Regions from separate parts of the Homo sapiens genome. Here regions 1 and 2 are each linked to region 3. Evidence: fine-mapped expression QTL. A gene starts in region 3. Each other region holds a variant in brackets. All regions are shown on one strand. Distances are from middle to middle. Region 1 overlaps RAPGEF5 (Rap guanine nucleotide exchange factor 5). Region 2 overlaps RAPGEF5 (Rap guanine nucleotide exchange factor 5). Region 3 holds the start of RAPGEF5 (Rap guanine nucleotide exchange factor 5).

The links. PIP is the estimated chance that this variant, and not a neighbour inherited with it, causes the effect.
Region 1: its variant is the best candidate, but not a certain one, in a credible set for the expression of RAPGEF5 in gastroesophageal junction (GTEx, PIP 0.79).
Region 2: its variant is the best candidate, but not a certain one, in a credible set for the expression of RAPGEF5 in pancreas (GTEx, PIP 0.72).

What each region holds. Positions count from the first base shown.
Region 1 is chr7:22,111,055-22,121,584 of GRCh38, forward strand. It overlaps RAPGEF5 (Rap guanine nucleotide exchange factor 5), which reads right to left. Exons shown (of 26, transcript NM_012294.5): 26 at 7,182-10,530. Among named protein-coding and RNA genes, the nearest start is that of CDCA7L, 170 kb to the left of the region's middle. The variant C/G (reference allele first, on the strand shown) is at 5,866.
Region 2 is chr7:22,250,133-22,260,662 of GRCh38, forward strand. The region is part of intron 7 of RAPGEF5 (Rap guanine nucleotide exchange factor 5); the gene reads right to left. Among named protein-coding and RNA genes, the nearest start is that of RAPGEF5, 100 kb to the right of the region's middle. The variant ACAAAAC/A (reference allele first, on the strand shown) is at 5,460.
Region 3 is chr7:22,352,032-22,362,561 of GRCh38, forward strand. RAPGEF5 (Rap guanine nucleotide exchange factor 5) reads right to left here and starts at 5,123. Exons shown (of 26, transcript NM_012294.5): 1 at 4,799-5,123. The coding sequence starts at 5,029. RefSeq lists enhancers at 141-190, 4,399-4,468 and silencers at 4,589-4,818, 4,879-5,268.

The DNA of each region.
Region 1 (10,530 bases), 240 kb before region 3:
TGAAGAGGTTCTGTGCATCGAAGTTGCTCCACATGGCTGTGCTGACAATGCTTGGAGCTTGGACCTGGAGGTTTGAAGCATCATTATTGAGCAAGTATTCATCCAGCACAACACCCCAGCTCATAGAATGGCTTTGACTGGTGAAATCCCAGATGTGGATGATGTAGAAAGTCCCCTAAATCAAGCACACAAGTCAGACTTGGTACAAAGAGATTATTGTTAGTTCCAATCCATGTCTATCTAGTGGACATCTCAAACCAAATATGTCCCGAACTGAGTTCCTGCTATTCTCCTTCAAACCTGCCATCTCCAAGGTCTTTTTCATTGCAATTAGTTGCAATTCCATGATTTCAGCTGGTCAAACCAAAAATCTTGTGGTTAACTCTTAACTTTCTCTTTCTCCATATCTAATTTATCAGCAAACCATATCAGATGTATCTTCCTAAATATATCCAGAATGACTCTATGTCATATCACCCCATGCCACCACCTGGTGGAAGTCACCATGGTATTTGCTTGTATTATTGCAATAAGCTCACGGATTTCCCTACTTCCACCTTTGCCCCTATTTGGTCTGAAATTCAGTAGCCAGAGTGGTCATGTCCTTCTCTGCTTAAAATCTTCCAGTGGTTTCTCATCTGACTTAAGGTAAACATCAAGGCTCCATGTGATCTGGCCCCAGTTATCTCTGACCTCCTCTGCTTCTCTTCCTTTCCTGACTGGCTCCAGCTGCACCAGGATCCTCGCTGGTTGCTGAACTCCAAGGGGCACACTCGACACCTTTGCACTTGATGTTCCCTCTGCCCAGAATGCTTTTCCCCCAGGGATTTGCATGGGTGGGTCCCTCACTTCCTTCAGGTCTTCCCAGCAAAGCTACATGAGTTTCTCGGGGCTACTGTAACAAAATACCACAGGCTGGGTGGCTCAAACAACAGAAATGTATTGCTTCACAGTTTTGAAGGCTGAAAGTCTGAGATCAAGGTGCTCGCAGGGTCTGTTGCTTTTGAGGGCTGTGAAGGAAAGGTCTGCTCCAGGTACTCCCCTCCATCCCCCACCCCCAGCATGAGTGGCCACCTTCATGCTCACATGGGTGTTCTCCCTGCCTGTGTCTGTCTCCAAATTTCCCTGTTAGGAGAACACCAGTGACATTGGATTCAGGCTCACCCTAAAACCTCATTTTCAGTTGATTACCTCTGTGAAGACCCTATCTCAAAAAAGGTAATATTCTGAGGTATCAGAGATTAGGACTTTAAATATTAAATTCTAGGGAGACACATGTAAACTCATAACAAAGAACTTCCCTAGGTACCCTACTTAAGATCCCACCCAGTTAGGGAGCCTGGCACTCCCTAATGCCCTTCCCTGCCTTAGCTTTTTTGCTCTTGAGAACCTTATTACCATCTAATGTGTCTGCTACATGTTACTTACCTGTTCTGTTTATGGCCTTTTTCCTTGGATCAAAGGTCCATGAAGAAGAGGTCTTTGCCAGGCGCAGTGGCTCACGCTTGTAATCCCAGCACTTCGGGAGGCCGAGGTGGGCAGATCACGAGGTCAGGAGTTTGAGACCAGCCTGGCCAAGAGACCAGTCTGGCCAATATGGTGAAACTCCATCTCTACTCAAAATACAAAAATTAGCCAGGCATGGTGGCAGGTGCCTGTAGTTCCAGCTGCTCGGGGGGCTGAGGCAGAAGAATTGCTTGAACCCAGGAGGCGGAGGTTGCAGTGAGCCAAGATGGCGCCATTGCACTCCAGCCTGAGCCACAGAGTGAGACTCTGACTCAAAAAAAAAAAAAAAAAAAGTAGGGGGGGTCTTTGTTCATAGTTGTTTTTCCATCACCTAGAATAGTACCTGGCATACAGTAGATGATCAGTACATAGGATAGAAGATGGAGCTGATGAGGGCCACTGTAGACTAATGTGAATGAGCTAATATTACCAGGTAGAGAGAGGTGGGTGAGGGGGTCAGCTATTGGTTGATTTAAGGAAGAAAAACACCATGCAAGTATAACATGGGGCCCAGGGTGAACCATCCCTTTTTTGGCCTCTCCTGCTTTTACAATGGGGACTTCATCTCAACCCAGGCCTCAGAGTGCAGGCTCTGCCCTTTAGCTTGCAGACTGCGTTCTAAATGAAAGCAGAGATTTCCTCCAAGCACAGAGCACACCACAGAGCACAGTGAACAGCCTGCTGTTTTCAGGCCCTTGTCAGAAATGATGACGCTTGCATGTGGCAAACCAGCAGCTCAAGGTTTGGAAGGGGAGCTGCTGTTCAGGGATTCCTGGCCTGGAGTCCCTGCAGAGGGCCAGCAGGGAAAGGAATGGGGTGGCATCTAGCAAGAGCGCTTTGCCCAGTCCTCAGAGAAGTTGTGGCCCAAGGTCTAGTCAGCATTTTTGCCTCCAAACACAGGAATAATAATAGCATGAATACTAACAGGAGTATTATCCCAACTTGGCAAGCTATAGGAAGATACCTTCATTCAGATAAATCAGCCAATACTTAGGGAGCCATTGCTTTGTCCTGGCATTGTGCAAGGCATGAGGGGATTCCAAAAGGAAATCTCTCATATTCTTATTTCACTTTAGCATGAACAAAGAACTCGCACATGCATTGTCCATTTCATTCTCACAACTGCCCTGTGATAGAAATGTTCTATTATCTTGTTTGACAAGAAGGGGAATGAGGATAAGAGAAGTCAAATGACTTACCCACAGCCATGTATATTCAATGATTGAGGAAAAATGTGGGTACACATCTTCTGGCATGCATCCTGTATTAATAATAATAACAGGCCGGGCGTGGTGGCTTATGCCTGTAATCCCAGCACTTTAGGAGGCTGAGACTGGAGGATCGCTTGAGCACAGGAGTTTGAGACCATCCAGAGCAACATAGCGAGATCTCTTCTCTTAAAAAAAAATTATATACACACACACACACACACACACACACACACACACACATACATACATATAAGCCCAGTGTGGTGGTGCTCACCTGTAGTCCTAGCTACTCAGGAGGCTGAAGCTAGAAGATCCCTTGAGTCCATGAGTTCAAGGCTGCAGTGAGCTAAGATCATGCTGCTGAACTCCACTGTGGGTGACAGAGTGAGACCTTGCTTTTAAACACACACACACACACACATACACATACACACACATAAAGTATCACTAATTGGATGTGAACTATGTACCAGGCACTGTATTTCGCACTTTATATGCACTTTCTCATTTTACTTTTCACACAACCTTGTGAGGTAGGGAGCATTTTATGAGATGCAGAAACAGCAGTGAAGAGCAAGGTAGAAACTTTCGCCAGTTTTCCCAGCTCTTGATAATGGAAGGTGGTTCCTGAAAGAGTAGCAGGTGCAATCGGCTGCAGGAATTCAGATAAGAGATGGGGGCAGGGGCTCGATGTCAGATGGGACATCCAGGAGGGCTTCAGAGTGCACCAATCCTTATTTGGTAGGTAGAGAAGGAGTTCTGGGCACACTGTGTCGAGTGGGCAGAGAAGGGACAGGCCAGACCTGAGTGCTGGGGCCCGGCAGGGAGGCTGGGAGATGAGACAGGATGGGGCTGCACAGCTGGAGGCCAGGAGTACAGTGAGGAGCCAGGCGGACCAAGTCCCTACCCTTAAGGAGGCAGTAGCCAGCTTGGCACTTGGCAGCATGCCGTGATGCATTGATTCCAGGGGCTTTTCTGTTTGTTTATTGCAGGCATTCATCCCTGGTAGGACTGTGGAGTCAGCAGTGGGCACAGGACAGGGAAGGGGTGAGGTGTTCCTTTCCGGCATCCTCCCACGGCCTTTTCCCTTCCAGCTTCTGAGGCCTAGCCCAGGTCAACTGAATACAAAGAAGCATGAACAGTTCTTATTTCCTACATTAGTCAAGTCACTTAAAAAAAAACACCAAAAAACTAATTAGTTCTGGCAACTGCAGGTCTACACCAGCTTTCCTAACCACCGTGAGCTGAAAGGGTCTTAAAAGTCTCCTGAGACGGCTGTCATCTGATTTCTGGATTGCCCTTGCAACCATCTCTGCTGGTTGATTTCGGGTCTGTTTGCACATCTCTGATGGGGAAGAGCTCATTGTCCTGAAGGCAATTCTGGTGGCCTGGGCTGCTCTAGTTAGGGCCAAGACACACACACACACACACACACACACACACACACAGTTACACAGAGGTATATACGTATCCTTCTCAGTCTGGCCTCCAGATTTCCCACCTTGAAAGGGACTTGAGAGTTGAGACACCACAGCCCTGTTGTTGCTGTAGAACTTGGGAAGGGCAGGGCACGGTGGCTCATGCCTGTAATCCCAGCACTTTGGGAGGCTGAGGCGGGAGGATTGCTTGAGCCCAGGAGTTTGTGACCAGCCTGGGCAACATGGCAAGACCCCATCTCTACAAAAAATACAAAAATTAGCCACGCATGGTGGTACACACCTGTAGTCCCAGCTACTTAGGGGGGCTGAGGTGGGAAGATCACCTGAGCCCGGGGAGGTTGAGGCTGCAGTGAGGCATGAGCTGTGATCATGTCACTGCACTCCAGCCTAAGTGACAGAGTGAGACCCTATCTCAAAAAAAAAAAAAAAAAAAAAGAACTTGAAGAACTTGGGCAGCAGCTCTTGCCGCTGTCTCAAGGCTTCCAGGTGGGCTAATTGCTTTAATTGCTTTTGAGACTTCAATGTCTTTGCCCTCTGTTGATGTCGTGTTGTTTTTTGGTCGGGACCCCAAGAACAAGGTGACCAGTAGAGGGATTTTCTCAGGAAGTGATTTTCACTCAAGTTGGGAACTTTCACACAACTTGGGAACTTCCAGATGTCTGTGAGTAAGAGGGGCCTTCCAGAGACAAGGGTACACTATTACTTCCCATGGTGGCATTTCGGGCAAGCCAGCCTCTGAGGCTGGGACTGCTGTTCAGGGTCTTCCAGGGAGAGGAAAAGTCCAACCAGGAGAACTTGGCGTTTCTACCCACCCATTTCCAGGTTGGAAACCTGGGAATATAGGAACCACCCAGAGATAATGGCGTGAATCCCCAACAGGGGAGCTTGTTCTTTTAGAGGAAGATTTCCAGACCTGTTGAGATCTTCTTCACGGTGTGGCTGTAGCAGAAAATAATGGTGACATGATATGGCTAGACAGGGGGGGCTTGGTTTACCCTGGTTCACAAGTGTCACGTGAGGAGAATTTGGAAGTTCCTTAACTCCAGGCTGGAGGGAGAGCAGTGGACTCAGAAGGTGGCTACAGAGTTTACTATGGGACTGCCGTGGTGAGCAGTGACATGACCTTGTGGCAGAAATGCCCATAAAGCTAACCATAGGGTACTGTCTCAATTCCCAACACTTGGAAGACCCCCATCCCCAGGATAAGGATGGATGATTAGAAGCCACAGTGGGGCCAAACACAGGCCGAGTTTCTCCTGGGCAGGAGAAACAAAATAAAGAAATGCGACTGGACCCAGCTCTGAGTCTGGCTGGATCAGGGATCTGAGTGCATTCCCCAGGAGCCCTGCACTAGCTCAGTCCTCAGGATGCCACTTTCTGCCTAGAAAGTCAGCCCTGCTGCTTAGGTGCTGGGAAGGGGAACTGCTATGGCTCTGTTTAGGCAAGAGAAATTCCTGCTGCCTTCAGTAACAGGAGTACTTCAGTAAAGAACATCAGCAAGTCTAATGCTTTAGGAATCTCATTTGTTGAAAGTAGTGAATGAAGAGCAAAGGCTCATGGGGTATTCAGAAGACCTCAGACAAAAAACCTCAGACGCAACCTCATGCCTTGAGTAGGATTCTGTTGCTAGTGCACCAGGGCCAGGACCAGAAGTTTCATTTTGAGTTTTGAGTTTTGCTAACAGGAACAGGCTTCTGAGTTCACGGGAG[C/G]CCTGTGCATCTTCCCAGTACCGGCTATCCCACTCGAAATTGAAGAAAATCTCATCACGTCCTTAGCAATGGGTATTTCTCTTTCTTTCCTATTCCCTTCCCAAGCTGGAACCTAGGGCTTCTTCCCATTCTCCCTTCATCTCCTGCATTCTCCAGGTTCCAGGAGGACCCCATGGGGTCAGCCCCTACAGATGAAGTGATTTAGGGATCAGGACTTCTCTCTTCCAGTGGCTGCCTTAGAGACAATGCCCTTGTGTTTTCTCTTCCCATTTCCCCTTGTTTCACAGAAGTGCCACTTCCTGGTGATGAAAAACCCAAGAAAATTATCTTCAGGTCTTCTTTCCCATTTCTCATAAAAAGCCAAGCCCTTTGCATGGATGTGCGACAACAGGTGGCTTCATCCACGAGGTACTGTGCTGAGCCAATACTGCCGCCCACAAGTGGACGGAGGGAAAGGGCAATTTGTCAAGAAAAGACTGTCCTGAGAGACTGTATTAGTCAGCTGAGGCTACATTCTGCTGAGTAAGAAACCACTACCAGACCTCAGAGACTTCTAGTGATGATGTCTGATTTCTCACTCAAGTTAGACGTCGTTCACAAGCCAGGACTCTGCTCCATGTTTCCTGTGATCCAGGACCCAGGCTGACAGGGGTGCCTTCATCTGGAGCAGGGCAGGTCTCACAGCACAGCAGGCATGGCAGGTGCAGGCTACCTCATAAAGCTTCCACAGACATGTCTCCCCATTTTTCACTGGACAGAGCAAGACACTGGGCCACTCCTGGGTTCAAGAAGGTGAGGTTTATAATCCCCCTGCAAGGGGGAGATGGACACATGCCAAAGGCCAAACTTGACCTCGATGGGCAAGATGTACAAATTTCCTGTTTACACAGAGAGAAGATGCTGAACACTCAGTCTGCGCTAGTGTATATACCGCCTGGCATCCCACTGCCCCAGAGCATCCTTATTATCCCTGTGCTGCTCCATCCACTCATGGCTCTTCCGCTGTCAGGACCTCTATCCTGGGCCCCGGGCATCACCACTGGGCTGGTAGCTGCACTCAGTATCTGGGCTGGTGAGGGACAGTTCCTGGTCCTGCTCAAGTAGGGTGAGGCAATGACAATGGTTGCCAGATTCCCCAGATTTCAGACTCTGAGAACACTGATGCAATTTCCAAAATAGGGTGTTTAGGTTCTGCAATAACCCAATGGCAGGATAAGTGATTTAGGCTTCTATGGGCTGCCTGAGAACCTCTTCATCTACTTGTAGCTCTTTCAGTGAGCAAATGACTTCTGAGTTCCAACCCCCTGAGCATCATATGCTGCCAGAACAGAGCTATTTAATCCACACACATCACAGAGAAAGCAAGAAACTAAGAGGCATGAATAGTGTCTTTAACATAGTCTCATATTTGGAAAAGCAGTTTTAAAAAAAAATTGAAAATACAAGATAAGGTAAGGGTTACTTATATAAGTTTTAACCTTATATTGCTTGGCCATTTTTACATATAAATTATTGCTTACTAGCTTCGATAAATACACAGCACAGTCATATACATATATATTATATATATACACAGAGGCAGAAAGCATGGAATATGGGAAAGAAAACACTGTTAATGGCAATTCTGGTAACTCAACAAATGTTTCATATTTACCAGTTCTTTAAATGGTGGAAAACTACCAAGTGTAGTCCCTGAGAAGTTAGGTAGACACCCTGATGGCGGGTTCTCTATCTTCTAATTGTTAATGCAAGCTGACAATATCACAGCAGCCCTAATTAATGATACATTAAAAGGCAAGATTTCTTGCTTCAGGTCACTGATTTCATCCCAGTATTTAATAACAGTGTGATACGAATACAATAAATAGACTATGCAAATAAATATTACTCTGCTAAAAAATGTTTAGTATATACAGCTTTGCTTTATACAGTAATACATTTGCATCTAACTTTTTGGCAATTTTTAAAAACTTCCCCCCCGCCCCCCCACCAGTTTTAAGCAAAACTGGCCCACTCGCTAAGAAGCAGGCTGAAATTTTAAGGACATGTTTTTGAAACATTTAAAAGAAATCCTGTGTTGGACCACTGCGGAAGACCCGATCGTCCCCATTTTAATGTTTTTGCCCAGTTTCTGAAAAGCCTGGATTGGCTGCGCCATTTAGGAACATTCAGTTCCGGATCTGCGGTGTCTGTGCTGGCTAGAACAGACTCGCAGGGCTGGGATATGGGTAGCAGTGAAAGCCCAGCTCCAGGGATAAGAAGTCATCACTGGTACTCTCTCTTTCATGCCACGATTTCTCCTCCACTCAGAGGCAAGTATATATTCATGCAGCATCCTCTCCCTGTGGACTAGGCAGTGTGAGCACTGACCTTATCCACATGCTTCTAAATTCGGTGTATGCTCCACACTACCTGTTTGTGGTTCTCGGTCTAGGGAAATGAATTTATTCTAAACATAATTAAGGAAACTAGAAAAAAGTGAATGCAGGTCATGTGTATCACTATAATCATTTGGCAATTATACAGATGACAAAGAGCAAATTCAAAACACCACACTCTAGGGAACACCTGCAAATGTGTATGTAAAACAAAATTTTTTTTAATAGCAAGGTTGTGATTTTGCCTACGGGGTCCTGCATTCTGCTGTCTTGTGCTAACTTCTAAGCAGGGCTAGTTTGCTGGAATGCTGACGAATCCAAAGACCCACAGGACTGTCTGAGAGTTGTGCTGTAACAAAAAGAGCCCACTTAGAAGTGCCCCTGCACCACCTGGTGCCGAAGGTGCCAGATTACGTAAGATTTGCAGAGTGAGCGAAGATTTTATGCAATAATAAAACTCCAAATGAGAGCTGGCAAAGAGCTTAGCCATCTTCTAGACCACGCTTCTAGCCAGAACAAACCCTATTCTGAAGAGGCCTTGGTGAATATCCAGAGAGGGTGCATGGCCCATCCTATTAACAAGGAGCACTCAAGCCCCACCACTGTCCACCAGTGAACAGCTCAGATTCCTTAGAAAGAGCTTTCTGTTGAGTAATATCTGGTTCTCACAATTCGGGCTTGAATTCTTTAATTCCAGATCTAAGATTCTGCAAAGCTTTGGAAACTTCTGAGAGCTGCTGCCTGGCAAACCTCTGGAGACAGTTGTTAAACTTCAGAAAGATGCAGAGATTTTAGACATTCAGAAGACAAGGATGGAAAAGCAAATCTTGACTGCACAAAATCCTCCCTTCCCTCTGCTACCCCTAGGACCACCTAACCACGGCTGGAGGAAGAGGTGAACAAGCATCATTTTCTCCCCAGCCAGTTTACACCCATGTCATGTGAGATACTCTGAAGTCACTGTACAAAATGCATTTAAATACCACATTTGTGTAGCTTCATCTGGCTTGGTGGGCATATCTGACTTGGGGTCTGAGCAGCATGCAATATGCTGAAATAGTTCTCCATGGAAAATTAGTCCCCTAAAGGTAATGTTCTACTAGGAGCAATGTAGTTCTAATGTAAATAAAAATCCAAATTTTGAAACACAGAAACAATGTCAGGATGGCCTTATATGATTACACTGGCCAAACCTTAGTCCAGGGCATAGGAAAAAGGTGAGAACACGTGCTTGTGCTGTAAGCCCATGCTATTGTTAGTAACTGCGTGAGGAGGGCTTTGGAGGGTTTGCTCAGCCCAGCCGTGAGGGAAGTCTGCTCTCCGGTTCTCACGGCTCTGGTGTCCTGTGGGCCACATTCCATGACGGCAGCATGCAGCATTTCTCTGAATGGACCAGCCCTGGAGGATGCCCTTCTATAAAACCCTATAAATGTTCAGGACTGAAGTTTTACATGCTGGGCCAAACTAAGTCTCTCTCAAAGTTCTCCCAAACCTTCTCTCCACATGGTTCCTTCCAGCAGTATCTCAAGCTCAGTGTGGTTCCTGAGCCCAGGAAACAGCACTGCTATAAAGATGTCAAAAAGCATTGGACACGCCTCAGTAATGAGGATGAATGAGGCGTTGATGAGACAAAAAGGAAACAGGTCTGTGTGGGCATGAAAGAGATGAACAGGCAGGAAGAGTGAGAAGTGCACCAAGACTCCTGCATTTGGAAAATGAATGGACCAGGCCCTTGCATTTTAGCAAGGTGACAAGTATCTAGCAGGCAGGGGTGGATTTCATTATTTTGACCCATAGGCTGTTTTGTTCATGTGAAGGTTGAAAGAAATCCTCTAACCAGTCCTTGAAAATATCAAGAGGTCTTATTTGCTACAGGAGCCTCAATTGGTAAAAATGGGAATAATAAGATTTTAGAAGACTCAGATTTTGAAAAAAAAAAAAAAAAAGGCAAATTATAGAAAGGCTCCCTGCTTTGGCTGGTAGTTGGATTATAGGACTTCTAAGTTGCCAACATTAATCAGACATTTGGCTATTTCAGGGCATTTTTCATTTGCCAAAACACTAGTAATTACCACTATCTTATTACCTAGAGAGTGCTAAGTGCTTCACTCATTAAATGTCACTTAACCTCCCTGCACTGGCTGCTGTCATTCCATAGTGTGGGCAAGGAGCCTGTATGAGGTACGCAAAATGCATCATCAGGCACAAGAATGCAGACTTTTGTGACTCTGTCACCTCAGCAAGCAGTTGGTGAGTGTTTGCAATGTGTCAGGCACTGTGCTTTTTC
Region 2 (10,530 bases), 100 kb before region 3:
TACATGCCTTCATTGTACGTGCCTTCATTGACTCCAGGGTGAAAATGTCTATCACTAATCTTATCCCCAAAACAAATCTTAATCACTATATGACAGTATTTAAAATACAGTATTTTTATAACCTATCTGAAAAATGCAAATAGCTAGAACCAGGGCTTGCTTATCTGCTTAAAAAGACAATGTCTGATTTAGAAACTCTCAAGTGTTAAGTATTTTTTATTACATGAGTGAAAAGAATAGTATATAAATTTCACTTTTGTCATAAGCATCACTTATCCTGGTGGAATTCAGCTGAAGCAAATTATGCACTTTGCATCACTTACTATGGAATATTATTTACTTTTCTTCACATACCATGTTCATGTCATTTCCAGTTTTACTGAGAACAGTTCCATTTGCATGTCTGTTTATCCAATTAGACTTTTAATGTGACGAAGGATGGACACTAGCTGGGTCATACGGCCAGGACAAAGATTTCCCTTGATAGCTCTTACTTGTCAATACAAATGACAGAAGAAAATGTCCCCGGGGGGAAAAAAAGGCCTTCAGTAGATTTTTACTAGGAAAAAAGTCGATAAAATGAAAAAAGTTTAGGAAGGAAAATAAATGATTAGTAATTATTATTCTCATATTCTTGTGGAATAGACAGCAATGTATAATTGAGAGAAGGGGAGCTTCCTAGTACTTGGTACTTAGGACATGACCTCCAGCATGGTACTCTAGTCATCGACCAAGCCTACCTCTGCATTTTATAAAAGAATGGAAACTGAGGCTGAAAAAAGACAGTGATTAATCAGGGGGAACACACCCAGTGTAGGAGTCAAATTTCCTGGCCACACCCCCAGAACTGCTAAATTTTGGTAGAAGCCCATGTTTTCCACAGAATTTCATAACTCTATAAGAATAGCATATGGCAAGGATTTTTCTTCTTAAGGAATATTTTAGTATATAAGAGACATGATTTTAGCCATTAAAGTTTTCTGTTTAATTATGTGATCTCCTAATATTTCCTCAAATATTTTAATATTTAATATTTTAAAACATCTACAGATTGCAAAAGCAATAATAATATTAAAATGTTGTACCTTACAGAGAAGCAGTCACAGAATTGTAAATTCTAAAAATAAATCATAGACAATGCCACCCCCCCAGCAACCACTCACGTACCCTCCAGTGCAAACCTTTATTTACCCAAATACACAGAATTTGTCAGATACAGCGTTATAAGTGGATGCATGTCCTGTTTAGGGCACCTGGTAATTAGCATAATGGCCTCTTGGGCCCTGCCTCAGAATGCTGGGTGGCATGTATCACAGATTCATCTGGGAAGCAGCTTCCACTAACCAGGGAACCAAGGACAAAGGAGCTGGCAGGCTTCAGGGGAGTAGCTGCCCAGTCAACAGTGTATTAAGGACAGCCATTAGTTGCCACAATCAGTTAATTAGCTCAACAAATGCAAAACCTAAATCATTAAATAAAGTGGCCCTGATTGCACTGCTGACTTCTGATTTGGTATCACTAACCCAGCAGGGTGAGAATGAGGTAGTTCCACAAAAAATAAAAACCTGTCCACATTGGGAAAATGATATAGGATGGGATTTCATTTTCATGAAAGTTGAGCCCTGCCAGGAAGTTTCATTGACAAAAAAAAAAAAAAAAAAAAAAAAGTGGAGGTGCCAGGGAGACCTCTGTGTTTATGCTTTGAAATTTAAATTAATTTAAATATAAATTGCTCTCCCCTTTTGTCATTATGAGAAGGAAATAAAATGTGGGTTTCAGATCTCTGGTGTGTAAATGGTCATTAACTTTCATTTGACCTTGGGTACAGAACTAATATTGGATTTATGCACAGGGTACACTCATTATGCTCATCTAGTTTCCTCACAAAAAACATGTTCCCAGGAGCTGCAATGCTGGAAGCTGCTTCTTAGCTCTCAACTAGAAAACTTGATTCTCTCTTTAATGCCTCTCCCCCGCCTTACACCCACCTCTCTGCTCAATGTCTCAGGAAACTGTTTCTCCAGGCTTAGCAATGTGTATAAAACATGTGCAAGAAGAAGTAGGACTCTGAAGAGCTTAAAATCATTGTCCTGGACCACACAAGACCAGACAGTAACCTGCTCTGGGCAACGTCACCTTACTGGCACCATCAGTGTTCAGTTCTTCCCAGGATCAAATTCCCTACAATAGGAACAAGCTTCCACTTACAGCAATTCAATTAGCTTTGTCTACTAAGTGTTACACAGCTTGACTGAAGTGCCCCAAGTATTTTTGAAAACCAAGACCTCAAAAACCTTGGATTCTGGAGTATGCGCTGCTGTAGTTATAATTATTCACCTCCTTGGCAAATCTGTTTCATTTACTATCTTAATGGGCATGACCATATTGAAGGATTAAAAAGAAAATCATCTTGCCTTGCTTTCTGATTTTCTTAATTCTAAACAATTCTCAGGGTTAAAGGAATCTAACTTCTTATACTCACTACTCTCAGATCTCCTGCTCATCAGGAGAAATCTGTGAAAAGGGCTATTTTCTTTTATAGTATGCCATTGAATGGTTATTTATCATTTCGACTTAATAGCTCTAATTACAAAAGATAGTGTCATGGGACTTTTTTTAAAGGCAATTTTCTTTGTATCCCAGTGGGAGAGTTAGAAAAAATTTACAAAGCATCTGCTGAATGCATTTTCAATTATTCCTGGGCTTTACCAGTGCTATTACTTTCTTGATTGTAAGAATTTTACATTTTCAAATATGCTTTAACTTTACAATGCATTAAGAATTACTGTTTTAAGATTCTTATGATGGTTTTATCTCACTTAAAAAAAAAAGAAAGATACAACCCATCAAACATTGAATTGATCACTGCTCAACAAGAACATGCACTGGTGGAGACAGGACGTGAATATACAAAATTTGTCAGCAAGCAGGGACAGAAGAACGATCTCTGGAAATGTTAGAACAATGAGTTATTATAGCACTGGAGAAGGAGACAGATTTTACAAACTTCAACAATCAGCATGGTGTTAGGCAAAGCTCTCTCTTTTGGGGAAAACATCCTAGGAATCATCAATCAATTAGGAAGACAAGAATGTTGTGTTGATTATTTTAGGGGAAAACACATGACACTTCTTTCCTCTTGGCTGACAAATGCTAAACAACACATTCAGCGGGGTTATCAGACAATCGGTGTTGGCCTGTGCTGACCAGAAATGAGAGTGATGGGCGCTGCTGGACACAGTATCGAGGATGTGGCAAAAGAAAAGAAAAGGACAGAAACAAACCATCTGGAAAAATCAATTCTGAGAGGATCCTGGTCCATCCTTTGAGAGGCTGTGAAAGTCTTGGGAAATGTACGTGGTTGAAAATACCACCAAAAAATAAGCATAAACTTTTAATTACTTAAATACAGCCAACAGACTCCTCTTATAACGTAGCATTTTTTAGCGTAAACACTCTTTATTAGAACACTCAGCAATTAGATGGAAAGAAGATCAAAAGGAGAGCATTCAAAATAATATCTCTATAGCTTTTTAAGATAACTTAAATTTCTTCCAAAAAAATTAAACACATATTATCAGAAAGGTAAAGGAAATCTGAGATGACAATAATTATATTAAGCAAGTCAGCCTGTCTTTGCTGACCCTAATTTTATTACTAACATCCATTCTAAAATCCCATTTGTCATGCATTCTCCTAAATATTAGCTATGTATTTACCAAAGGATCAAGGTAAAGTCTAATATGGTGCTACGTTAAAAGAAGAACCTGTCAACTAAAAATAAAAAGTAAAAATTTATAAGACCATAAAAGCAGAAGCTATTCCACAGGTATAAAGGTTATTTTTTTCTTCTACACATGAAAAAGGGAAAGCCTTATTTATACTGTTAAAAATATTCTATCATCAATTTCATTTCTTGTGACAAAGCAATATGAATATCTTGTCTTTGGAATATTCTGCTCCAAAGTAGAATATGCCTTTTCACTGGTGTCCAGTTTCAAACCTCACAAATGCCTCGCATGGTGAGTCCTGCTAACATGTGACTGCTCCCAATATTACATACATATACTTGAAAAGGGGGCTTAAAACCTCTAAGTTTTCCAAAATCGTGTTACTGGTGATGTGATTGTTACTCACAGTAGATCTGGAAAGCTGGGACTTTAGACAAAGGGTAATCAAAAGAAAAAAAAAAAAGGCCGGGCATGGTGGCTTACACCTGTAATCCCAGCGCTTTGGGAGGACGAGGCGGGCGGATCACCTGAGGTGGGATGTTTGAGACCAGCCTGACCAAGGTGGAGAAACCCCGTCTCTACTGAAAAAAAAAAATTAGCCAGGTGTGGTGACACATGCCTGTAATCCCAGTTACTTGGGAGGCTGAGGCAGGAGAATCGCTTGAACTCAGGAGGCAGAGGTTGCAGTGAGCTGAGATCGCGCCATTGCACTCCAGCCTGGGTGACAAGAGCAAAACTCCGTCTCAAAAAAAAAAAAAAAAAAAAAATCAAACCCCTCAGATTGTCTCATAGAGCAGTCCTCAACCTTTCTGGCACCAGGGACCAGTTTCACGGAAGACAATTTTTCCATGGACTTGGAGAGGAAGGGGGAGATGGGATGGTTTTGGGATAAAATTGTTCCACCTCAGATCATCAGGCACTAGATTATCATAAGGAGCACGCAACCTAGATCCCTTGCATGTGCAGTTCACAACAGGGGTCGCGCACCTGTGAAAATCGAATGCTGCCACTGATCTGACAGGTGGTGGAACTCAGCGGGTAATGCTTGCTTGCTGCCACTCACCTCCTACTGTGCAGCCCAGTTCCCAATATGCCACGGACAGGCACCAAACCATCGACCAGAGATTGGGGACCCCGAGTCTAACAGGTCCACCTTGATTACCAGATCCTGGGGTTTCCTACTTGAATGTTTTACCTGGAGTTCACTGTCATGGCAAATAAGAGTTAGCAGGTTGTTGAAACCATATGCCCACCCCAAATGCCTATTTAAGCTTGAATACAGGATTATAAGGTCATATAGGATACATTCTTTGAACATAGGAATCAAAGATGTATCCTATATGATCTTAGAAAAAACAATTTAACGTAAAACATTGGCTTCTCTCTTATCCGTTCTAGCCTCTTAAAAATAATAATGTTTTTAAAAGCTAAACACAATAAGCTAGCTGGGCACCATGGCTCACATCTGTAATCCCAGCACTTTGAGAGGTCAAGGCGGGAGGACTGCTTGAGCCCAGGAGCTTGAGACCAGCCTGGGCAACATAGCAAGACCCTATTTCTACCAAAAAAAAAATTAAAAATTATCTGGGCATGGTGGCACATGACTGTAGTCCCAGTGACTTGGGAGGCTGAGGTGGGAGGATCACCTGACTCTGGGAGGTAGATTGCAGTGAGCCATGATCACACCACTGCACCCCAGCCTGGGTGACAGAATGAGACTGTCTCAAA[ACAAAAC/A]CAAAACCAAAACCAAAAACACAATAGGCTAAACCATTTTATACACTTTGATATATCATATATATTGTAATATCTTAGTAAAATATTTTGGTACATGAAGAACACTTTAACCTGAATTCCTGGCTGGTTTATCCTAGAAAGAGAGAAAAAATGTTATTACCCACAACTTGAAGAGTTTATGAGTTTTCAATTCATTCCTTTCAATTTCCAGGAACAAAAGCAGAATAAGAATGCCTTTTCACAAGTTACATATTTACTCTCATTATCTTGAAAATTACTAATCAAGAGTGGGAGTGTGGCTGGAAATGCCAGAGACCAGGTGTTGGAAAACCTGAGTCTGCATTCTGCCTGCAGACTTTCTAGCCTGTGTGAGTCTCAGGGTGGCACCTCCTCTCTAAATCTTGTGATTGAGACAGTGCAAACAATTCCTTCTGGGGTGATCACATTACTCTTGCCTGCCCAGCAGCCATTCTCCCCTCTGCTGGTGTTCTTTGTAGAGCCATGTATTTTGCTTGTGTGGGGTTGACTTGACCTGTCTACTTCCCCCTGCCATTCTCCTGCTGCTCCAGAGGTGGGCACTTCATCCTTCCAACAAGATCGCTTAGCAAAGCTTCTTTTGGGGCTATCAGGACAATCCCTCGCTGAGACTGTTAAACTCTACAGAGTCCTTGAGGCAAAAAATTCCCTTTTTGGTTTTCAGTTAGTTTTTCTGTCACATGCACCTAAAATAATCCTGAATAAAATAGTCCCAAGGTTGTGACTGAGGTGAATGAATGTAAAAAGTGAAAACATTGTTAGAACAGGATTTTTAAATATTAGAGCTGGAAGGAATCACTGAGGTTACCAAATTTTACGCCAGCCCCTGCAAGATACAAATTGAAATCACAAAGCCGAGGTCGCAAAGACACGTAATGACAAAAATAAAACAGAGCCTGGAGGTCCTTCTTTCCTTTTCAAACTTTAAAATCCCAGATACTTTAGTTTTAAAACACTTAACTAGCTATGGGCTAAGGACAGAGAGTGAAATTTAAACACTGCCAAGGAGATTTACCACTATGAGATTTCTGGCTTTCCAGAAATAGAAGCCCACCATGGCACAAATTTCATATGATCTAAAGATAATGAGAGCTAAAAGTGCTTTGGATTCCCTGGAAAAGGGAAGTAACACATCTCCCAAGACACTAATGAGCCAACATTAGCAGGAGAATAAGCAATCCAACAACGAGAAAGAAGTGCAAGGATATCTGTGCAAATTTCTGCAAATCTTATGAAGCCTTAAAATGCTATTCACATCCACTAAGGTTCGCTCTTAGGGTAGAAAACTGTTCAAAGGCACATCCTAATGGCCTTTTAGAAAATTACAACAAATAGATTTTTTACTAAGCTTACAGCCTTTAATTATTCATAAAACCTACACTGATTGGCAGTTACTTTTATTTCTGTTTGTACAGTGGGCTGAAACTAAAAATTTTTTACATTAATGCTCATTTTAATAACCTCTTGCAGTTAGACAGAAATCCGGCAGGACCACCTGTGCCCTAATTAACAGTTTTACTACAAGACATAAGATAGTAGGGTAATCAATTCCTTCTGTCAAGCTCCAGATGTGCCAGCTATCATTTTAAATACTTTTTTATTTGATGTATATTAGCTTATTTTTCTTCTCCTTTAAAAAGTATTCAATAGTTTTAAAAATAAGAAGCATACATAGAAAACACCATTCTGCAGCTGGAACTCTACTTAATTAAGGCCATGCTTAATGGTTCTGCGTTTGATCACCTCCTAAAATCACAATAAGAAGTTTACCTTTCTCTGACAGTCACTGACTCATTAATGCATTCTATTTATGAAACATATGCTATGATTTTAAAACAGCAGGGGCCATACTTGTCCTTGCTCACTATTGTATCCTGTGTCTTACACTGCATTCAGCTTATAGTTTGTGCCCAGCTAGGGTTTGATAAAGGAACAAATGAATACAATACCTATGACTTAGGCTCTTTTGTACCTTGCCATTGTTCCTTCACATCCACACTCAATGCCAACTCAAGCATTGAGAATGCACAGTGAATCAGTCAGGTATCTCTAATATTTCCATATTTGAATTCTTTGAATACAGTAATATATATCTTGTTGGTTATTTTTACCCCTAGATTGTTTCCCAAATGTATTGTAGTTCAGGGTGGGGAGGGGTTGTAAGAAAGAAATGTCTTTGTTTTTTCCTAATACAATCTTCTTCATTTATATTGCTCTTCTAATCAGAAAACATTATATTTAATTAAAGTCAGGGGCAAAATAAGAATGACAACTATCATTGATATTATTCAAACTTATACTGCAAGGCTCTAATGAAATATTATAATATGGGAAAAAAGGAATTATATGCATTGGTAAACATAGACAAAACAGTCATCATTGACAGATGATGAATTTGTCCATGTGGAAAATCCAAGATAATTTTTAAGGAAGCTATTAGAACTCATTGGAGTTCAACAATTTTAAGGGACACAAAATCGAAAATTCTCATACAACAAAAAAAGAGCCAACTAGAAGAGATAATAGATGTAGATACAGATAAACTGATTCTGAAGTTTTTATGGAGAGAGAAAAAACTGAGAATAGTCAACACAAGATTGAAAGCGAAGAACAAAGTTGGAAGGCAGACACTACCCAATTTCAATACTTAACGTAAAGGTACAGCAATCAAGACAGTGTGGTATTGTTGAAAGAATAGACAAACAGGCCAGGTACGGTGGCTCACGCCTGTAATCCCAGCACTTTGGGAGGCCGAGGCAGGCAAATCACCTGAGGTTGGGAGTTCGAGACCAGCCTGACCAACATGGAGAAACCCTGTCTCTACTAAAAATACAAAATTAGCTGGGCATGGTGGCACCTGCATGCCTGCAATCCCAGCTACTCAGGAGGCTGAGGCAGGAGAATCACTTGAACCGGGGAGGCAGAGGTTGTGGTGAGCCAAGATCGCGCCATTGCACTCCAGCCTGGGCAACAAGAGCGAAACTCCGTCTCAAAAAAAAAAAAAAAAAAAAAAAAAGAATAGACAAATAGATCAATGGAACAGAATAGAGAGCCCATAAATAGACCCAAATATAGTCAATTGATCTTTGACAAGGAGCAAAGGCAATATAATAGGGAAAAGACTGTCTTTTCAACAAGTGGTTCAGAAACAACTGGATATCCACATGCAAAAGATAAAATAAAATAAAAATAGAACCTAGACACAGACATTACACCCTTGAAAATGAACTCAAAATGGGCCCCAGACCTACATGTAAAATGTGAAATTATAAAACTCCTAGACTATAACATAGGAGAAAATCTAGATGACCTTAGATTTGGTGATGACTTTGTAAATATAAAACCGAAGGCATGACTCATGCGAGAAAAAATTGATAAGCTAGACTTCATTAAAATAAAAACATTTCTGTTTTGCAAAGACACTTAAGAAAATAAAAAGGCAAGCTATGGAGAGAAAATATTTTACAAAAGACATATCTGATAAAGAACTGTTATCCAAAATATACAAAGAACTCAAACTCAACAATAAGAAAACATACCAATTAAAAAATGAGCAAAAGACCTGAACACATACCTCAACGAAGAAGACATACAATAAGCACATGAAAAGATGCTCAACATCATATGTCATTAGGGAATTGTGAATGAAAACAAAGAGATATCACTACACATCTATTAAAAGGGCCTACTAGAATGGCCAAAATCTAGAACACTGACTACATCAAATGCTGGTGAGGATGTGGAGCAAGAGGACCTCTCAATTATGCTGGTAAGAATGCAAAATAGTATAGCCACTTTGGAAGACAACTTGGTAGTTTCTAATAAAATTTAACATACTCTTAACACATGATCTAGCAATCAAACTCCTTGGTACTTACCCAAAAGAGATGAAAATTTACATTCACACAAAAATCTGCATATCCAAAGCTTTATTCATAATTGCCAAAACTTGAAAACAACCAAGATGTCTTTCAGTAAGTAAATGGATAAACTGGTTCATCCAGACAGTGGAATATTATGCAGCACTAAAAACCAAGGAGCTCTGAAACCGTGAAAAGATTCTGAATGCATATTACTAAGTGAAAGAAGCCAGTCTGAAAAGGCTACGTATTGTACGATTCCAACCATATGACATTATGGAAAAGACAACAACTACGGAGAGAGTAAAAAGATTAATGGTTGTCTCGAACTCCTGACCTCGTGATCCACCCACCTTGGCCTCCCAAAGCGCTAGGATTACAGGCGTGAGCCACCACGCCCAGCCCAACATGGTGAAACCCCGTCTACTGAAAATACAAAAATTACCCGGGTGTGGTGGCAGGTGCCTGTAATCCCAGCTACTTGGGAGGCTGAGGCAGGAGAATCGTTTGAAATCGGAAGGCAGAGGTTGCAGTGAGTGGAGATCGTGCCACTGCACTCACTTCAGTCTGGGCAACAAGAGCAAAAACTCCGTCTCAAAAAAAAAAAAAATTAATGGTTGTAGTGGGTTAGAGGAACATAGAGTTGAATAAGTGGAGCACACAGGATTTTTTAGGGCAGTAAAACTACTCTGTATGACACTATAATGGTGGATACATGTCATTATACATTTCTCCAAACCCATAGAATGTACAACATCAAGAGTGAGCCCTAAACTATGGACTTTGGGTGATAACCACATGTCAATGGAGGTTCCGTTATTGTAAAAAACGTAACATTCCAAACCAGAGTGGGATGCTGATAGTGGAGAGACTGTACATGTGTGGGGCAGGAGGTATAAAGCAACTCTCTGCACTTTGTATTCAATTTTGCTATGAACCTAAAACTGCTCTAAAAAATAAAGTCTATCAAAAAAAAAGAGAAATTTCATTAAAGAAAAAGACTGAGGAACCATCACACAATGCAGAAATTAGGACCAGTAAAAAAAAAAAAAAAGATATTACAAAAAATAGTTCATTTACAACAGTAATCAAAACTACAAGGTACCTAAAAATACATCAAACAAAAATGTCGACTTGTACAGGGAAAGATACCCTATATTCATTGATAG
Region 3 (10,530 bases):
AGGCCCTTCTGATGACCAATCCAAAAGCTGGGAATCACTGAAGGTCTTTGGTGAGCAATTTGGCACAACTGGTGAATCATTCTGGCTGCTGTAAATGAAACAGATACCAAGACGTTGAAGACAGTGGCAGAGGCTGCAGAAAACATCACAGCAGCCAAAGCCCAAAATAAGTCAGTCCCAGCATTTTGACAGTATATACAGAAAAAGGGAATAGCTGTTATCAGTTCTTTTATTAGGGGGAAAATATCAGTCTTAGAAACAACCTGATGAGAAAGACTTAAAAAGATACAAAAAAGTAAGGTAGGAGGCTTAAGACCAAGGGAAAAATAATGCAACCACTAAGAAAGGTAAAAGATGGGGAAATGAACGATTGTCAGTTTAAAAAAAAAAAATTCATCAATGCTCCTTGGGAAAATGGCTGATTTCAGGGTTTCAGGTCGGGAGCAGCAGACTATGGACAAGATGCACTTAGAATATCTTGCGTCAGAAAAGTAAGAAAGGTATTTGAGTTTACTGGCCATTTAAAAAGTATACAGGAGACAAAGATAAACCAAGCACCAAAAAGGATATTGACTGAAGTGACAGAAACAAATACATTAAGATTCATAAGTTCTTAATGACACTTAAAAAAGAAAAACTCACTGGTTCTCACTGGAGATTGTTAAAGCACCAAATCATTACTCTGATAGTTGGTAAAAGGAAAAAATTAAGACTTTTCCCTGTCTATCCTGCACATTGTGAATTTCAGGAGACCTAAATAATTTATGAGGGAAAGTTCTTTACAGACCGAATTCCAATTAATAAATGCAAGAAGAATGATGGATTTAGATCATCACCATTTTGCAACCCCTAATGAAAAGGATCTAGGCTACAACGATCTGTGATACTAAAATCATTAAGTAGAAGACAGACAGCTAAGTGACACTACCTAAACTCACGAATCAATCTTTCCATCTCAAAAAGAGAGATATCCAGACATTATGCGTCTCACGATGTGATGCAATAGATTTTACACAGCACCATCCATGAAGGTTACTTGTCTTTGAACCTATATCTAATCAAACCTCTATATCTAACTGCCAGATCACAGGAAACAGAATAGAGGAACAAGCTAAACATCACCACAAGGAATCAGTCCAGACAGTAGGATGTTCTACAGCACAAATGAACCACTCTCTTCTGCAAATCACTGGCATGAAAAAAGGGAGGGGAAGCTGTTATAAAATAAATTAGAAATCCTAACAACTAAATACAATATGTGGACCTCATTTAGCTCCTGTTTCCAACAATCATAAGTAAAAAGACAACTTTGAGAAAATTTGAATATGGAAATTATATTTTTAAATTATTAATATTTTAGGTGTGAAAAAGGCAAAGTTTTGCTGTTGTTTTTAATGTCCTTATCAGGACCGTAAACTGAAAAATTTGTGAGTAAGACAACATGATGTACGGAATTTTGTTTTAAAATGCACTAGCCCCTACAAAAGTGTATGGAGGGGGAAAATAAATGAAACAAGACTGGCAAAATGCTAATAACTGTTGAAGCACAGGTGTTCATTATACCATTCTCTCATAATCTCTGTTATACAATTAAAAAAATTAAAGGGTTTTGTCAGGAACTCAGGTTGTGCATTACTTTGCTACTGATTTTTAAGAGGTAGTTAGGGCCCTCCCACAATGTACAACTTAGTCTTTCCCTCATTTGTCTTAAAGAAGTGCAAAGAGTCTTAACCAGTATGCATGCTGAATTCAACACAACTAGAAGTGACTGAACTGAGGAACCAAGGAACTCAGGCATATTAACCAAATGGCAGTTTGATTTTTTCCTAGTAACAGATAGCCTACAACGTAGTGAGACCCCCAGTCTCTAAAAGAAATAGGAAAAAAAAAATTAGCCAAGCATGGTGGTGTGTGCCTGTATCCCAGTTCCTCAGGAGGCTGAGGTGGGAGGACCGCTTGAGCCAGAAGGTCGAGGCTATAGTGAGCTATGATCACACCACTGCACTCCAGCCTAGGTGGCAGAGCAAAACCCTGTCTCAGAAAAAAAACAAAACAAAACAACAACAACAAAAAAAGCCTATAATGCACCTGGGTTGAGCAACACAACCCACAAAGAACTTTGTTAATGTCAGTTGATGTCAGATTGTCCAGGTTTGTGGGAGCCCAGGGCAGCATGGATAAGGACCACACATATTCCTAAATCAGATCTTGGTCAATATAGGAGATGAAAACTCAACTAACTCATGTAATGCACAAAGCTGTGTCTTTACTAGTGGTAATGGATTTCTGTTAACTTATCCCTGAAGTCACGCAGCTCCAGTCTGGAGGTATGGCCCATGAGACACAAAGCTGAAGGTCTACAAAAAGATCCAAGCCATGATTTGTTTGCATTAGCATCACTGCCCAATCCAAGGTGGTTAACCAGACAATCCCAGATGCTAACAAGTCACCAACCAACCAGTCTGATACATATTCTACTTGTATCTCTCTTTCTTTCAAACCCCCTGTGTTTTGGACTGTTAAGTGTATGCCCCCTACAAAATTCTTATGTTGAAGCCCTAACCCCAAACATGACATTATTTGGAGATGAGGCCTTTGATAATTATTTAGGGTTAGACTAGGTCATGATGGTGGGGCCCTCATGATGGGATTAGTGGCCTTATGAGAAGAGGGAGCCCTCTCTTCCTCTGCGTTTACCAAGGGAAGGCCATGAGAGGATATACGAGAAAGTGGTCATCTGCAGGCCAGGAAGAGAGCCCTCACCAGAAACCTAATCAGCCTACACATTGATCTCAGGCTTCCCAGCATCCTGAGCTGTGAGAAAATAAATTCCTGTTGTTTAAACCACCCAGTCTACGGTATTTTGTTATGACAGCCTGAGCTGCCTAAGACAAGTTCATATTTCACTTGTTTTTCTCCTTCTTTCAACCCCCTTCCTACTCCTTTGATGGGGAAGATTCCAAAATCACAAAGGTAGTTCCAAGGCAGAAGAAAGGGGAAATAAACAGTCAAATAAATAGTCAAAAAGTATGGGTTTCCAACACTGGAAAAACTGACAATCAAACTTCCTTCAATAAAAACTGGCTATGCAGTTACGAAATGTGTTTGGAAAGTCCCAAAAAGAAATAATACAGTATTAGAATCAAAGAGGGTTAATAAAGCATACATTATCTGAGGTAACCACATTCAGAGTAATTAAAAAATAAAACTAAATAGGTATATTGACAAGGTATACGACACCCTCCCAGGCAGCAAGAAACATGAGTATGAACGCAAATAAATACTATAGATCTATTTATACAGAAACCCTCAGCAATTCTTGTCGCAGACTGCCTGGCAGCCCTCATGTCTTCAGTATTCTGTGCCATGAAAAAGTAACCGTCAAGGATAATAGAAACATAATTTGACCTACTTTTCCCTGGATTCCTGCAAAGTCTATAACTCCAGTTCTTGTTTATTCCGACACCACATCTTGGGGACACATTTCCTCACTTACTTTGCAGGCAATCCTAAATGCCACACATGTTAAGGTCACTTGTGGGCAATTCCTAAACTCTCTGGGTCACCGACTTTAAGAATGTCCCATCACACACAGAGAATCCTCAGAACATCTTCTGAGATGGACCTGGGATGGACCATTTTCCACCTGAGATGGAAAATGCCTAGGAAAAGAGAGATGCAGCCTCGAGAAGCTGAAGACCGACATCAGTTCAGACCCTTCCCTACCCAAAGGAGGGCGCATGAAAACAAGTGGTTATCCCTCACTCTCAAGTTTACACAAACCCATCTCTGAAAGAGCTAGAAGTCTCCCAGCAAGGTCTTGTTTTAAGTCAGACAAGACTGCATTTTAAAAATTACAGCCAAACGGGAAAGAAAAACCACATTGATGCAGCTTCTCATTAAAGACCACTTAATAATAAATTTTTAAAAGATGAGTAGAACCCACCAAAGGTGCCGCCAAACCCTGGTGAGCAGGGAAATCTGAGTAAGTCAGCTCTGTGTCCTGAGGCCCTGGCGGGGCCTCCTAGGTGGCTTCTTAAAGATCCCAGGAGACAATCAGCAGACCTTCCTGCTTCTCTTAAAAATACAAAACATGCCTGACCTGCTCAGGTCATTAGATGCACTTAGAACTCAATGAGGGACACTCCTTCACCAGGAAATCGTATCTGAACACACCATCAGGAAGTCAATATTGAAGGTTCTTGGGGGCGTGCACCCTCCTGCTCAAGAGGGTGTCCAGGAGTATTAAGTGCTGGAGACACCGGAACCCAGGAACTGGAAGCTCACCCAAGAGCTTCCGACTCCTGGGTCTGCCCCTCGGCGGTGGAGACCACCAAAACCAGTCTCGATGCCCAGAGCTTGCAACAGCACCTCCAAAACAAGCACACACGTCGCATGCGTCCTGCAAACAGGGATGCCGCTCGTGGGGCCTGAAGCTTGCGGTTGGGACAGGGCTGGCTGGCTGTTGGACGCTGGACACCTGCAGCTTCCCCTCCGAGAAGAGGCAAACAGCTCGTCTTCAGCCGATGCCCGGTCCCGCAGCCTGAATCTGGGGGCCCTGGGGTTAAGTCAGGTGCAGCCTGGTGGGGGGGAGGTGTGGGGGCGGGGGAAGCCGTCGCTCAGGGGGTGGCACCTCAAAACCCGCCGTCCCGGGCCCCTCTTCAGCCGAGTCCGGCAGAAGGGCGTCCCTTCCGCCACCTCCCCAACTTCCAGACGCCCCCCTCAGCGGCCCGGGGGGTGGGCGCGGGCTCCACGTGCGCGCCGCCCGTGCCCACTCGGACAGGGCCGGGCCACTCACCCGGCCCCCAGCGGCGCTCCGCTTCCTCCGCAGCGTGAGCCCGCTCCGCAGCAGCGCGGGCAGGTCCCTCAGCCGCGGCCGCAGCGACGCCGGCGGCTGCTCGCGCTCGGGCTCCCGGGCGCTGGGGCTGCGGCGCAGGGGGCCGTCTGCCGCCACCACCGCCGCCGCGGCGGCCAGGGCCGGGCTCTCGCACGGCGGCTGCATCTTGACGGAGCCCACGGCCATCCTCATGCCCTGACGGCGCTGCGGCGCCGGGGGCTCCTCTCCACCGCGCTCGCCTCCGCGCGCCGTCCGCGCCTTCGCCAGGAAGCGAGAGGGCGCGACTGCGGCTCGGGCGCGGGGCGCGCTGCCAGCCGCTGCCCATTGGCGCGCGCCGCGGCCCCCGCGAGGCTCAGCCCCGCGCGCCTCCCCTCCCCTCCTCTCTCCTCCCCTCCCCGCCCAGGTGCGCGGGCCCCGCCCCGCCCCGCCCTTTCGCCTGCGAAAGCTGCCTGGGACCTGTCCCCCTCGGATCTCCCACTCGGGACCCGGGAGGAAGAGGGCACCTTGGGCACCGGCTCATCCACAGGTGCAGAATTCCCAGAATCTCCGGCAAACCCGCTCTTCTGTCCTGTCCCTGTCCCCCTACCCCTTAGGCTGAAAAGTCCTGCTTCACTTCTTCGAATAGCCAGGGGTTGACTTGGACTTCAACCAAGTGTGCTGGAGAGTCGTCCGCCCTCCCGCGCGTTTTGCACAGCCTGGCCCCTCATCGTAATCTTTACTCCTGGGAACTGTTTTGGCCAAGGAACTTCAAAATAGACACGCTACAAGGCAAACACCATGAGGCAAAATTGCTTTGCGCCGACCCTTCTTGGCACACGCATCCTTAAAGGACGAAGGGAGAAAACTTTTGTTGGTTATGATAGGTGTTGAGCAGAGTAGCTGCAAGTCTGGTGACCTGAAGGTGAATCTCTGTTAGCATGTCAGAACCTGACCTTCCCTGAAAGCCCGCTGCTGTGATGAATGTGCTTGGTGAACTGTAAAGGCCTGCCGTGGTGTGAATCATTGTTTACACCCTTCCAGGAGGCAGGAATTCTGGATCATTGAGAGTGAAACTATTCCAGCAGTGCCTTAAACGCCAGGGAGTGTGAATGTTCACATCTCAGCTCAATCTGTCTTCAACAAGGGCCAGCCAGGGTGTTGACTTCTCATCAGTGGGGCGCTGGGATCCCCATCTTTGTCTAAGACTTACAAAAGTTGAATAAGCTTATTCACATTTTTAAAAAATGACAAGAATCGTAGGAGGTCAGGGTCCAGAGTTGGTTTACCATTGTGCCCTCAGCCACTCACATGGTAGGTGCTTGGCAAATATGTATAAAAACATGCCATGTAACAAAAAAGGAGGAACGAACTGTGACCTCTGCCCTTAAGGAAGGTAAGACTTAACCTAGGAGTAGACAAACATCCAGAAAAACAAAGATATTGCACTTGTACTCTTGCTAATTGCCAAGTAAGTGTAGGTAAGACCACTTCAGGCCACAGGAGAGAGAAATGCTTCTGGCCTGGGATGGGCAAAGCTAAATCCACGAAAGGAAGGAAGTTTAAACTGCACCTTAAGGGTGAGTGGGGAAGATTCAACCAGGCAGAAGGAGGGTAGGTGTCCTTCAAGTAAGGAAGAAAGACATGAGGCCGGGCGCGGTGGCTCACGCCTGTAATCCCAGCACGTTGGGAGGCTGAGGCGGGCGGATCACGAGGTCAGGAAATCGAGACCATCCTGGCTAACAAGGTGAAACCCCGTCTCTACTAAAAATACAAAAATTAGCCGGTCGTGGTGGTGGGCGCCTGTAGTTCCAGCTACTCGGGAGGCTGAGGCAGGAGAATGGCGTGAACCCGGCAGGCGGAGCTTGCAGTGAGCCAAGATTGCGCCACTGCGCGACAGAGTGAGACTCCGTCTCAAAAAAGAAAAAAAAAAAGAGAGAAAGACATGAGAAAAACACAAAGGTGGTATCACACAGAACTCACTGGGCACTGAAAATATGTCATGCTAGTGAAGGGAAAGATGACATAATGAAGAAGTAAGAGAAGATACCAGAATGGATGCTAGTAACACACTGCAGAAGGCCTTAAACCCTGTCACCTTAAGCTGTGTGTGTTAACTGGAAAGGACTTTATAATAGGACTCCATAGTCCATTACAGTTTCCAAATACCTATCACATGCATTTATCCAAGGCTGAAATTGCATTTGTATGTTACCATGTCAGACTCTATCCGTTTTTACAGTGTTAAGATATTGCAGCTCCAGTTGGTAATTGGTCGTTGTCTTGAGCCCCAGAGTGCCACTCACCCCCATACCTCCAACTTCCCCATGACATACAACTAAAGGGTGAACACCTGGCCCACTAGAAGCCCTCCAGGACACTCAGATTAGTGGGTGCTTGCGCCCCATCACCCCAATGACAACATTGAATCATACCATGAACTTACTCTACTCCAAAGTAGAACACGTGTTCCGTCTCCTGGTCCAGGTTCCTGGTCTTCAAACCCATTCACACAGTTGCTCAATGCAAGGCCAGCATTCCTTAGATTCTATGGGATAGACCAAGCGTCTAAAGTTCAAGAAGGGCCTTTGGAAAATTGGTTTAGGTTAAGGTGATAAATGACAAATGCCATTTAGCTTCAGGATAAAAATAGGCAAACAACAGGGAATAGTAGGATGTGTACACAGAAGAGCCACGTCACTGTTTAACTCAAATCAAGCAACCTTTATACTCGCTGTGCCCTGTCTGGAATGAGAGTCCTCTGCAATGCTGTCCAACAGAACTTTCTACAATGATGCACATTTTCTGTTATCTGTTTTGCAGCTACTAGCCACATGTGACTGCTGAGCACTTGAAACATGGCTAGGGTGACTGAGGAACTGAATTTTTAACTTTGTTTAATTTTAATTCATATAAATTTAGATAGCAGCATATGGCTAGTGGCTACCATGTTGGATAGTGCAGTTCTAGAAATCCACATTTCTCTCAGTCAGTGTCTTCAGTTTTTAAATTCAAATGTCACCATTTCAGTGAGGCCTTCCATGACCATGTGATTTTAAATTGCAGTCTTTCCTATCCATTCCTTTCTTCATCCCCTTCCGAATGCCCCACAGAGCTTACCACCATCCATATTCTATATATTTTATTTATTTTGCCTATTGTCTGCCTCCCCACAACTAAAATGTATATGACATAAGGACAGGGCTTCTTTTCTCTTTTGTTCAGTATCTAGAACACATGAGTTGAATAATTCAATTATTTCATATATAAGAACTAAGTTTTTCAAACAGTTTAATCTGGATTTCTATACAAAATCTGATTTTGCAGTATGAAAGCTTATAAAAATGTAAATCATATAAAAATGGATTAGAATGAATAAGATCTACTGTTGGTAGCACAATAGGGTGACTATAGTTAAAAATAATTTACCGTATATTTTTAAATAACTAAAGGAGTGGAATTGGAATGTTCCTAACACAAAGAAATGATAAATGCTTCAGGTGATGGATAGCCCAATTACCCTGATTTGCTCATTACATATTCTATGCCTGTATCAAAACATCACATGTACCCCATAAATATGTACAGCTATGATTTACCCATAATAATAATAAATTTTTTTTGAGATGGAGTCTCGCTCTGTCACCAGGCTAAAGTGCAGTGGCACGATCTTGGCTTACTGCAACCCTCTGCCTCCTGGGTTCAAGCGATTCTCGTGCCTCAGCCTCCCGAGTAGCTGGGATTACAGGCACGCACCACCACACCCAGCTAATTTTTGTATTTTTAGTAGAGATGGGGTTTCACCATATTGGCCAGGATGGTCTCGATCTCCTGACCTCATGATCCGCCCGCTTTGGCCTCCCAAAGTGCTGGGATTACAGGCGTGAGCCACTGCGCCTGACCAAAAAAATTTCTTTTAATGTAAATCATATTTGTGCCAACCACACAAGTCAACGAGACCACTTGCCAGCCACTTGCAATTTTTCCTACAGGATGGGGTACCAGAGCTGAATTTTACTTAAGAGAATGAGATCATCAAAGTCAAAGTGTGTGTAAAGACCCATGGTAAGAAAACACAAATTTTAAGGCTATTGGCAGGATAGCGAAATTGAAGACCAGGAAGATAGCTCTGACAATGAGCTAGCTACAAAGTGATGAGGGCCTGAATTCATTGCGGCAATGGAAACAGAAATGAGGGGTTAGATGTTAGACAGTACAAAAGAAGGCTCCTTGGGCATAGGAGCAGTAGAAAAATACTTCAGATGGTGTTGTGGAGTGTATTGTCCAAAGATGGACAGTTCAGCATCTCCTATCTTCCAAGCTCTTCTGCAGTGTGATATTGCCACTCCCCCGAAAAGAGATGGAGTTTCTTTCTCCATCTCTTTGAATTTGAGCAGACTTTGTGATACAGGAGTTAAGAAGAAATCACTTAGGCAAATAGTAAGGGTATGGGAGTCCTTGGAAAGACTTTCCTTTATAATGAAAAGCAGTACCAAATCATTTTCTAACAAAGAGCAGCCTGTAAAGTGGAGCTGCAGATATAGACAAGCAAGCTGGGAGCTTGCACAGGTCAATGTCAGCAGGAACTAGGGTCTAAACATATTCAAGATGGCGGCTCCAACTTCCCTTTTCTCCCAGCCATGTGTACAGTGAGGACCAGAAAAGATGGTGCAGGCCAAAGGGAGAATTCATTTGCATAATAAGATTAGCATGGGGCGACCAGTCTTCCCCACTTGCTATGTAAACGTCACACCTGATCGAACCAGTCTGTGAGCCCTAGGTAAATCAGACACTGCCTCCTCAAACCGAACTATAAAATCCGGCACATCCACCACCAGCCAGTCTTTTCTGCTGGGAAGACCCCCCTTCTCTCTATAGAGAGAGCTGTTTTTCTTTCTCTTCTCTCCTGCCTATTAAACCTCCACTCCTAAACCCCTCATGTGTGTTCGTGTCCTAAATTTTCCTGGCACAGGAGGATGAACCCTGGGTATATACCCCAGACCATGTAGCCGTTTCACTTGTGAATGATCTGGCCAATAGAATAAACAGAGGTGACTTCACCTGTTCTGTAAATAGCCCTTGGTTGGCCTGGCAGCTTCCACTTCCTGCTGTCTTGGATTGCTTGGTCTTGGGATGTGCCTACTCAGAACCCAGCCTCCTTGCAGGGAGAAGCCCAAGCCACATGGAAGCCCTGTGGAGGTGATCTGGCAGCTGAGCTCCCAGTAAACAACCAACATGAATTGCTGCCAATTTGGGAGCTACTTTGGACACAGTCCAGCTGAGCCTTCAGATGACTCCTGTACTAGTGATGTCTGACTGCAATCGTATGTAAGGAGCTCAAGAAAAAACTACCTAGCTAAGCCCCATCAACCCACCAAACTGTGAGAGATGATAAAGTGTTTGAAGCCACTAAGTCTAGAGGTATTTGTTACATAACAATAGATGACCAGGACACATGGCTCAAAAAATGTGAAGAACATACTCCGTTGTGAATGAAAAGGATGGAAATTTATATCCATTTTTGTACATGCATGAAGAAACTCTGGAAACTTTTTCAAGTCGTTGGAATTGGGCACGTGGGGAAAGGAAAGGTGGGAGATTTTGCATGTACCACTTTTTATATTTTTTTGTTTTTTAGAACATGTGAATATATTACCTATCTTTAAAAATAAAAATTTTAAAAATGGCTCCAGATTTAGAGAAGTCAAAGAGGTAGG